Homo sapiens: one gene and its partner. The protein of the gene in region 1 purifies or fractionates together with the protein of each later gene. This does not show direct contact. Each region holds a gene or a part of one and is shown in the gene's direction. Other genes may lie near its edges. The genes, in order: TTC9B and CLTCL1.

What was found.
Region 2: the proteins of TTC9B (region 1) and CLTCL1 purify together in Homo sapiens (affinity purification with mass spectrometry; 2 studies listed by BioGRID and IntAct, with this or other methods). This does not show direct contact.

The regions. Positions count from the first base shown.
Region 1 is NC_000019.10:40,215,443-40,219,860, reverse strand, and holds TTC9B (tetratricopeptide repeat protein 9B), read left to right. Parts: upstream 1-1,476; 5' UTR 1,477-1,479; coding exon 1,480-1,906; intron 1,907-2,491; coding exon 2,492-2,674; intron 2,675-3,285; coding exon of another isoform or gene 3,286-3,518; exon of another isoform or gene 3,519-3,588; coding exon 3,589-3,698; 3' UTR 3,699-3,803; downstream 3,804-4,418.
Region 2 is NC_000022.11:19,281,591-19,285,396, reverse strand, and holds part of CLTCL1 (clathrin heavy chain 2), read left to right. Parts: intron 1-3,806. UniProt on the Homo sapiens protein: Clathrin is the major protein of the polyhedral coat of coated pits and vesicles. Two different adapter protein complexes link the clathrin lattice either to the plasma membrane or to the trans-Golgi network.

The DNA.
Region 1 (4,418 bases):
AAGGAGGAGGATCGAGGAACTTGGCCCAGGTCCCACAGCTAAGGAGGCGGCAAAGGAGGACTGAAGGGCAGTTGACTCATTCATCCTCGATTTTTTTCTTGAAAGCCTCCTGCATGCTTCCTTTCCTGGGGACTTGTTTGCCCTCTCACTTGTTTTCCCCCATAGACAGCCGAGCTGGATGAGGGCAAGAAGGAGATCTCTCTTGTTTTTAGAGTTATTCCCTCCTCCAGGAAGACTTTATCACCACCTCAGCCCAGGGCAGGTACCTCCCACATCCCAGCCCCGACCCCTCTGCCTGTGCCTCTTCCACCTCGGCCCCGACCCCTCTGCCTGTGCTTCCCAGGCTAGCCTGCTCAGGGCTGTCACTGTCTGGTCACTGGTCTGTCTTCCCACTGAACTGGGGCCCAGTGAGAGTAGGGTCTGAAGCTCACGCAGTGTCTGCTATGTCCCAGCATCATCCAGCACAGAGCTGGGCACAGAAAGGATGTCAGTGAATATTTGTTTCATAAATTAACAGATGAATCCCAAAGGTGGTATTATTTTTAATTCCTTTCCTTTCCTTTTTTCTCTTTCCTCTTTCCCCTTTCCCCTTTCCTTTCCTTTCCTTTCCTTTCCTTTCCTTTCCTTTCCTTTCCTTTCCTTTCCTTTCCTTTCCTTTTTTGAGACGGCATCTCCCTCTGTCACCCAGGCTGGAGTGCAGTGGCACAATCTCGGCTCACTGCAACCTCTGCCTCCCAGGTTCAAGTGATTCTCCTGCCTCAGTCTCCCGAGTAGCTGGGACTACAGGTGCACGCCACCACACCAGGCTAATTTTTGTGTATATATACAAAAATTTTGTATATATTGTATATTAGTAGAGACGGAGTTTTGCCATATTGGCCAGGCTGGTCTCAAACTTCTGACCTCAAGCGATCCATCCACCTCGACCTCCCAAAGTGCTGGGATTACAGGCGTGAGCCACCTCGACTGGCCCTAAAGGTGATATTATTGTGCCATGTTACTGATGAGGATACAGAGTTCCAGGTAGTTTAAGCGAGCTGTCTAAGTCATACCACTAGTGAGAAAGTAAGCAGGGATTTGAATTTGGGAAGCTTGGGTCCAAATCCTGTGTTCTCATTCGATATGCCAAATGGCCAGTGGGCTGAGAGCCAGCTTTCCGTGAGGCTGATGTCTTCCTGCTCTTTCCCCCAGGCTCGTCCTTTCCTTCTAGAAATCTTCGGGAGCTTTGGGCACCGGGGAGGAGAGCAGGCAGGAGGTTGGGGAGGGTAAGGGGAATGGGAACAATTCGGGGGGCGGGCTGGAGAACTAGGACTTGGTTAATTTGAGAGTGAGCATGGGGGAAGTCTCGAGGGGTTTCCCTAGACCCATAGGGGGCAGCCGGAGTCGGCTGCCGGAGGTGAGGGGGCGGAGAAAGGGTGGGGACCAGCCCCGCGGGGGGCGATGCGGTAGCTGCAGCGGCGGCGGCAGGAGTTTCCCACAATGCAGCGCGGCGCGCTGTCCCCGGTGCTGATGCTCAGCGCTGCCCCGGAGCCTCCGCCGCGCCCGCCTCCCGCCCTCTCCCCACCGGGCTCGGGCCCAGGCTCGGGCTCCCGCCATGGCTCGGCTCGTCCCGGTCCTACCCCAGAGCCGTCGGGGAGCCTGGGCGCGGCGCTCGACAGCAGCCTGCGTGCCGCCGTGGCGTTCAAGGCAGAGGGCCAGCGCTGCTATCGAGAGAAGAAGTTCCGGGAGGCCATCGGCAAGTACCACCGAGCGCTGCTGCAGCTGAAGGCGGCGCAGGGGGCCCGCCCTAGCGGCCTGCCCGCCCCCGCCCCCGGGCCCACCAGCAGCCCCGGGCCGGCGCGCCTCAGCGAGGAGCAGCGGCGCCTGGTGGAGAGCACGGAGGTGGAGTGTTACGACTCCCTCACGGGTACGCCGTCGGGGGGTGGGGGGATGGGGCACGAGGGGAGGGGGCAATCGGGAGAGCTTGGCGACTTGGGGGCCAGGGGCCCTGGGGCTGAAGGGTCCAGGGCTGTGGGCTTCTGGGGGAGCCTTCAGAGCTTGATCAAGGAAAGGGATTAGGGGTAGGGGATGACAGGGGTCTGTGGCTGGAGGGAGCTGGGATGCAGGAAATGGTCTTTGGGTCGGGTATTCAGGGCCTCGCTTCCCCTGAGTCATTCTTTCCACCCCCTGGCCGCACGTGGACCCAAGGTGAGGAAGTCTGCCCTGAGCCAGGCTCTCGAGGTCCCGGCCCTCGCCCCCGCGCGGGGCCTTAGTGCTCTTGCCCACCGACAGCTCTGGGTGGATCGCCCAGTGGCGCCTGTCCGTGTTTTGGCGCCCCCTAGCAGCGGCGCAGTTGCGCCTGTTTCGATAGGCGAGCGGATTGGCGCCCCTGGTTGCCGGAGCAATCCCTTAGGCCTGGTTCCCTGCCGCCTGGAGCCTCGGCTCCTCGCAGTCAGGTGGGTTCTGGGGGTGCCAGCAGGCTCTGAGAGTGCCGGCCGCGGGGCCCTCGCAGCTTGCCTGCTGCAGTCGGAGCTGGTAAACTACGAGCGCGTGCGCGAGTACTGTCTCAAGGTACTGGAGAAGCAGCAGGGCAACTTCAAGGCCACCTACCGTGCCGGCATTGCCTTCTACCACCTGGGCGACTACGCACGCGCGCTGCGCTACCTGCAGGAGGCCCGCAGCCGGGAACCCACAGGTGAGTGGCGGGGCGGGGCAGAGGTGAGGGCTGGGCCCAGGGCGGGGAAAGGGGCTGCAGCGGAGGGAACAGGCAGGAAGATCAGGGCAGAATAGCAGAGCCCTCCTCCCGCGGAGCTGCTTCTAGGTAGGGCTGCGCCACCCACCTACTCCCTACACGCCCACTCATCCATTCATCCACCCCGCCCTTCACCCGCCATTCAAACATCCGTCCACCTATCGCTCCTCTGACATCTCCCCGGCCATTTCTCATCTACCGTCATTGCCACATCTGATATCTCCTATTCACCTGCTCAGTCACTTCCCTATCCACCCACTGTCATCTCCATTACCCCGTCCCACCCCTGCCTACCGCACACACTCATTCCTCCACTCACCCATTCACGCACACCTATTCATTCACTTCCTGCACCATCCACTCATCCACTCGGGTGGACGATGCCAGGAAATTGGGGTGTGTGTGTGTGTGCGTGCATGTGTGCACTTACACACATGAGTGCAGGAGGGCAGACACAACACTCAGTTTTGTATTAAGAGCCAATGAAGAAGGAAGAGGGATTACAACAGGTGCAGGGTTGTGGGAGCCGAGACGAGATTAGTTTTCCTGTTAAGTGGCTCGGAGAGAACAGACTTCTTGCAGATGTCGCTGGAGGATGAGAAGTGTGACGGGAGCCTCTGCGAAGAGGCATTCCTGGCAGAGGGTGCCGCAAATACAGGCGCACAGAGGTGTGCGATGGCTCCGCTGTGACTGGGGACTGCCGACTGTGACTGGGGCTTTGGGGAAGGGCTCTGGCTCTACTGGCTGTGTGAGCGAGCTGCTGGATACTTCGGAGAATGGGGTGTGAGCCAGGGAGGTGTGGAAGTCACCTGCTGCCCCGGGACACCCAGATGATGCCCTGCCCACCTCCCCTGCAGACACCAATGTGCTCCGCTACATCCAGCTGACTCAGCTGAAGATGAATCGTTGCAGCCTCCAGCGGGAAGACAGTGGGGCTGGGTCCCAGACTCGGGATGTAATTGGCTGAGGCCAATCCAGGGGGACCTCTCTATCCCTCGCCCTCCCACCTCACCATGTAACTTCCCCCGACTCATGTGTTTGTTGGTAAAACACTTGTCACTGGTGATCATAACTTGTGTGGTGTTCTTGGGGGGACCAGGGAGGGCCTCATCCCTTGGACCTTAGAAACCCAGAGAAGCCCAGGGAGGGTGTGTGGGGTCGGGGGGAATGTTCCACTGGGATGACCCAGCATCAGGGCCTGGGCCAGGGAAAGAAACAGTCTAGGCCAGGCGCAGTGGCTCACGCCTGTAATCCCAGCATTTTGGGAGGCCGAGATGGGTGGATCACTTGAGGTCAGGAGTTTGAGAGCAGCCTGGTCGACATGGTGAAACCCTGTCTCTACCAAAAATACAAAAATTATCTGGGTGTGGTGGCGGGAGCCTGTAGTCCCAGCTACTCATGAGGCTGAGGCAGAAGAATCACTTGAACCCAGGAGGCGGAGGTTGCAGTGAGCTGAGATGGTGCCACTGCACTCCAGCCTGGGCAACAGAGCAAGACTCTGTCTCCAAAAAAAAAAAAAAAAAAAAAAGGAAAAAGGAACACAATCAAGTGCGGTAGGGGGCAGGGGTTACCTTTAATGCTCCATTTTGTGCCAAATCCCCCATGATGCCCTGTCCCTGAGTATCCCTGCCCACCCTCCCCCCAGTGCAGGGTGGGCACAGGGCTCCACCCCCTGGGGTACAAAGGA
Region 2 (3,806 bases), on another chromosome or scaffold:
GTAAGTTCTGGAAGAGACCTTAGTGTCAACATTCTTCATAGGCCCTCATTTACAGAGCTCCCTCTTTAGGCTAGGAAAGGCTCTTTGGTAAGTTTCTTTTTCTTTTTCTTTTTCTTTTTTTTAAGATGGAGTCTTGTTCTGTTGCCCAGGCTGGAGTGCAGTGGCACAATCTCGGCTCACTGCAACCTCTGCCTCCAGGGTTCACGCCATTCTCCTGCCTCAGCCTCCCGAGTAGCTGGGACTACAGGCACCCACCACCACGTCCAGCTAATTTTTTATATTTTTAGTAGAGACAGGGTTTCACCGTGTTAGCAAGGATGGTCTCGATCTCCTGACCTTGTGATCCGCCTGCCTCGGCCTCCCAAAGTGCTGGGATTACAGGCGTGAGCCACCGCGCCCAGCGTGTTTCAAATATAAAATGTGTTTTTTATTTTATTTTCTTGAGACAGAGTCTCGCTCTGTCCACCAGGCTGGAGTGCAGTGGCATGATCTCAGCTCACTGCAGCCTCTGCCTCCCCGGTTCAAGCGATTCTCCTGGCTTCAGCCTCCTGAGTAGCTCGGACTACAGGTGCGTGCCACCATGCCTGGCTAATTTTTGTATTTTTAGTAGAGATGGGGTTTCACCATGTTGGCCAGGATGGTCTTAATCTCTTGACCTCGTGATCCGCCCACCTCAGCCTCCCAAAGTGCTGGGATTACAGGTGTGAGCCACTGCACCCAGCCCATTTATTTTTTTGAAACAGAGTTTCACTCTTGTTGCCCAGGCTGGAATGCAATGGCGTGGTCTTGGCTCACTGCAGCCTCCGCTTCCCGTGTTCAAGTGATTCTCCTGTTTCAGCCTCCCAGGTAGCTGGGATTATAGGTGCCCGCCACCACACCCAGCTGATTTTTGTATTTTTATAGAGATGGGGTTTCATTATGTTGGCCAGGCTGGTCTCCAACTCCTGACCTCAGGTGATCCACCCGCCTCGGCCTCCCAAAGTGCTGGTATTACAGGCGTGAGCAGCCACGCCAGGCCCTCAAAGTATGTTTTAAAAACTGTAGATGAACTAAATTTTACTGCCCTGAAACAAGTAATTTGTTTTACTATTTGTTTACCATCCATATGCTAGGCACAAGGATAAAGCAGTGAGTGAGACTGGGAAGGAGACAGATACAGAAAGAAAAAATATTGGTGTCCACATAGGTGTGAAAACATGGGGATGTTCAGTGCAACTTAAGCATTCTGGCTTCACTGATGTAGGCAGTTGATGTTCTCACTAATACTCTTGTACAAACACAGTTGTAGTCCTCCCAGGCAGACATCTTCCTTAAGCCCCTTATACATAGAAACCACAGGACTATCAGATGAGTAATTTCTTTTTGCATATTCCCCAGTGTCAGATTTTTTTTTTTTTTTTTTTTTGAGACAGGGTCTGTCTCTGTCACCCAGGCTGGAGTGCAGTGGCACAATCTTGGCTCATTCCAGCCTCTGCCTCCTGGTTTCAAGCGATTCTTGTTCCTCAGCCTCCTGAGTAGCTGGGACCACAGGCGTGTGCCACCATGCTCAGCTAAGTTTTTTATTTTTACTAGAGACAGGGCTTCACCATGTTGACCAGGCTGGTCTCGAATTCCTGACCTCCAGTGATCTACCCGCCTCGGCCTCCCAAAGTGCTGGGATTACAGGCATGAGCCACCATGTCTGGCCCCCATTGTCAGATTTGAATTTTGATTGATTTAATTGCAGGCTTTGAGAACTGAAAAGGATCATTAGACAGCATCTTCTTTACCTTTCTTTAGTTAAATCTTATATATGCCATTTAAAATGTGTAGCTAAGGTCCAGTGCAGTGGTGCATGCCTGTAATCTCAGCACTTTGGGAGGCCGAGGAAAGTGGATCACTTGAGACCAGGAGTTCAAGACCAGCCTGGCCAACATGGCAAAACCCTGTCTCTACTAAAAATACAAAAATTAGCCAGGTGCAGTGGCGGACACCTGTATTCCCAGCTACTTGGGAGGCTGAGGCATGAGAATCGGTTGAGTGTGGGAGGCAGACTTTGCAGTAAGCCAAGATTGCACCACTGCACTCCAGCCTTGGCGACAGAGCAAGACTCTGTCTCAAAAGAAAGAAAAAAAGAAAGAAAATTTTTTTAAAAATGTGTAGCTAGGTTACCTATCAGAATAATATACTAGGGATCAGGAATCCTTGGTTATTTCTACTAACTAGTGAAAAAAAAAACAAACCTGGGCCAGGCCCTGTGGCTCACGCCTATAATCCCAGCACTTTGGGAGGCCGAGGCGGGTGGATCACTTGAAGTCAGGAGTTTGAGACCAGTCTGGCCAATGTGGTGAAACCCCGTCTCTACTGAAAATATGAAAATTAGCCAGGCGTGGTAGTGGGCACTTGTAGTCCCAGCTACTTGGGAGGCTGAGGCTGGAGAATCACTTGAACTGGGGAGGCAGAGGTTGCAATGAGCCGAGATGGTGCCACCACTGCACTCCAGCCTGGGTGACAGAGTAAGACTCTGTCTAAAAAAAAAAAAAAAAGGAAAGAAAGAAAGAAAAAACCTGGCTTTTCAGCACATCACTTTTCTGGGACTTAGTTCCTGCGTATGGAGAAAAACTCACAGTAGTATCTGGCATCTTAGATGGAAAAGTTATTTTTGTGGGATTGTCCTGTATTGAGCATTCCTGGCTAAATGAGTAGAGAATGAGTTCCCCACTCATTGTACTATTAAAACTACCCTTGCCCATTTCTTTTTTTCTTTTTCTTTTTCTTTTTTTTTTTTTGAGACAGAGTCTCGCTCTGTCGCCCAGGCTGGAGTGCAGTGGAGTGATCCTGGCTTGCTGCAGCCTCCACCTCCTGGGTTCTCCTGCCTCGGCCTCCTGAGTAGCTGGGATTACAGGCACATGCCACCAGGCCTAGCTAATTTTTGTATTTTTAGTGGAGACGGGGTTTCACCATGTTGGCCAGGCTGGTCTTGAACTCCTGATCTCAAGTGATCCACCCGTCTTGGCCTCCCAAAGTGCTGGGATTACAAGCGTGACCCACTGCGCCCGAACCCATTGCCTATTTCTTTTTTTTTTTTTGAGACGGAGTCTTGGCTCTGTCGCCAGGCTGGAGTGCAGTGGCGCGATCTTGGCTCACTGCAGCCTCCGCCTCCTGGGTTGAAGCAATTCTCCTGCCTCAGCCTCCCGAGTAGCTGAGACTACAGGTGCACGCCACCATGCCTGGCTAATTTTTGTGTTTTTAGTAGAGACGGGGTTTCACCATATTGGCCAGGATGGTCTCCATCTCTTGACCTTATGATCTGCCCACCTCGACCTCCCAAAGTGCTAGGATTATAGGCGTGAGCCACCGTGCCCGGCCGCCCCTTTCCCATTTCTGAAGAATGCAGAATAGCACTCCTGGTTGAGAACTACTGTCTTAATTTAATCTGATTCTAATAGTCTTTATCTTATTTTTGGATCCACTCTTCTCAGTTGTTAAAACACTGTCTTATTTGTGAGGGACTTTTACCTTTTTCAAATGCCATACATGTGTATGTATGCTCTTAGATAAGGAACTTGACTCAGCTACTATTATTTAAGAACCCACTATGCTCAAGAGATTGGATACAAATTATTCAGGATTACCAATTCTTGGTATTTGGAGTTGAAATCAGAATGTCACCGTATTAACCCAACATCGATCCCCAAACTGAGAACAAAAGGACAATTTAGAAAACCCAGGCCCACTTCAGTGCACTGCTCTGTCTGGAGAGCATCCAGTCCTATCCTGCTAAAGCCGGAAAATCCAGATAGGTAGACAAGACCAAGAATGATTGC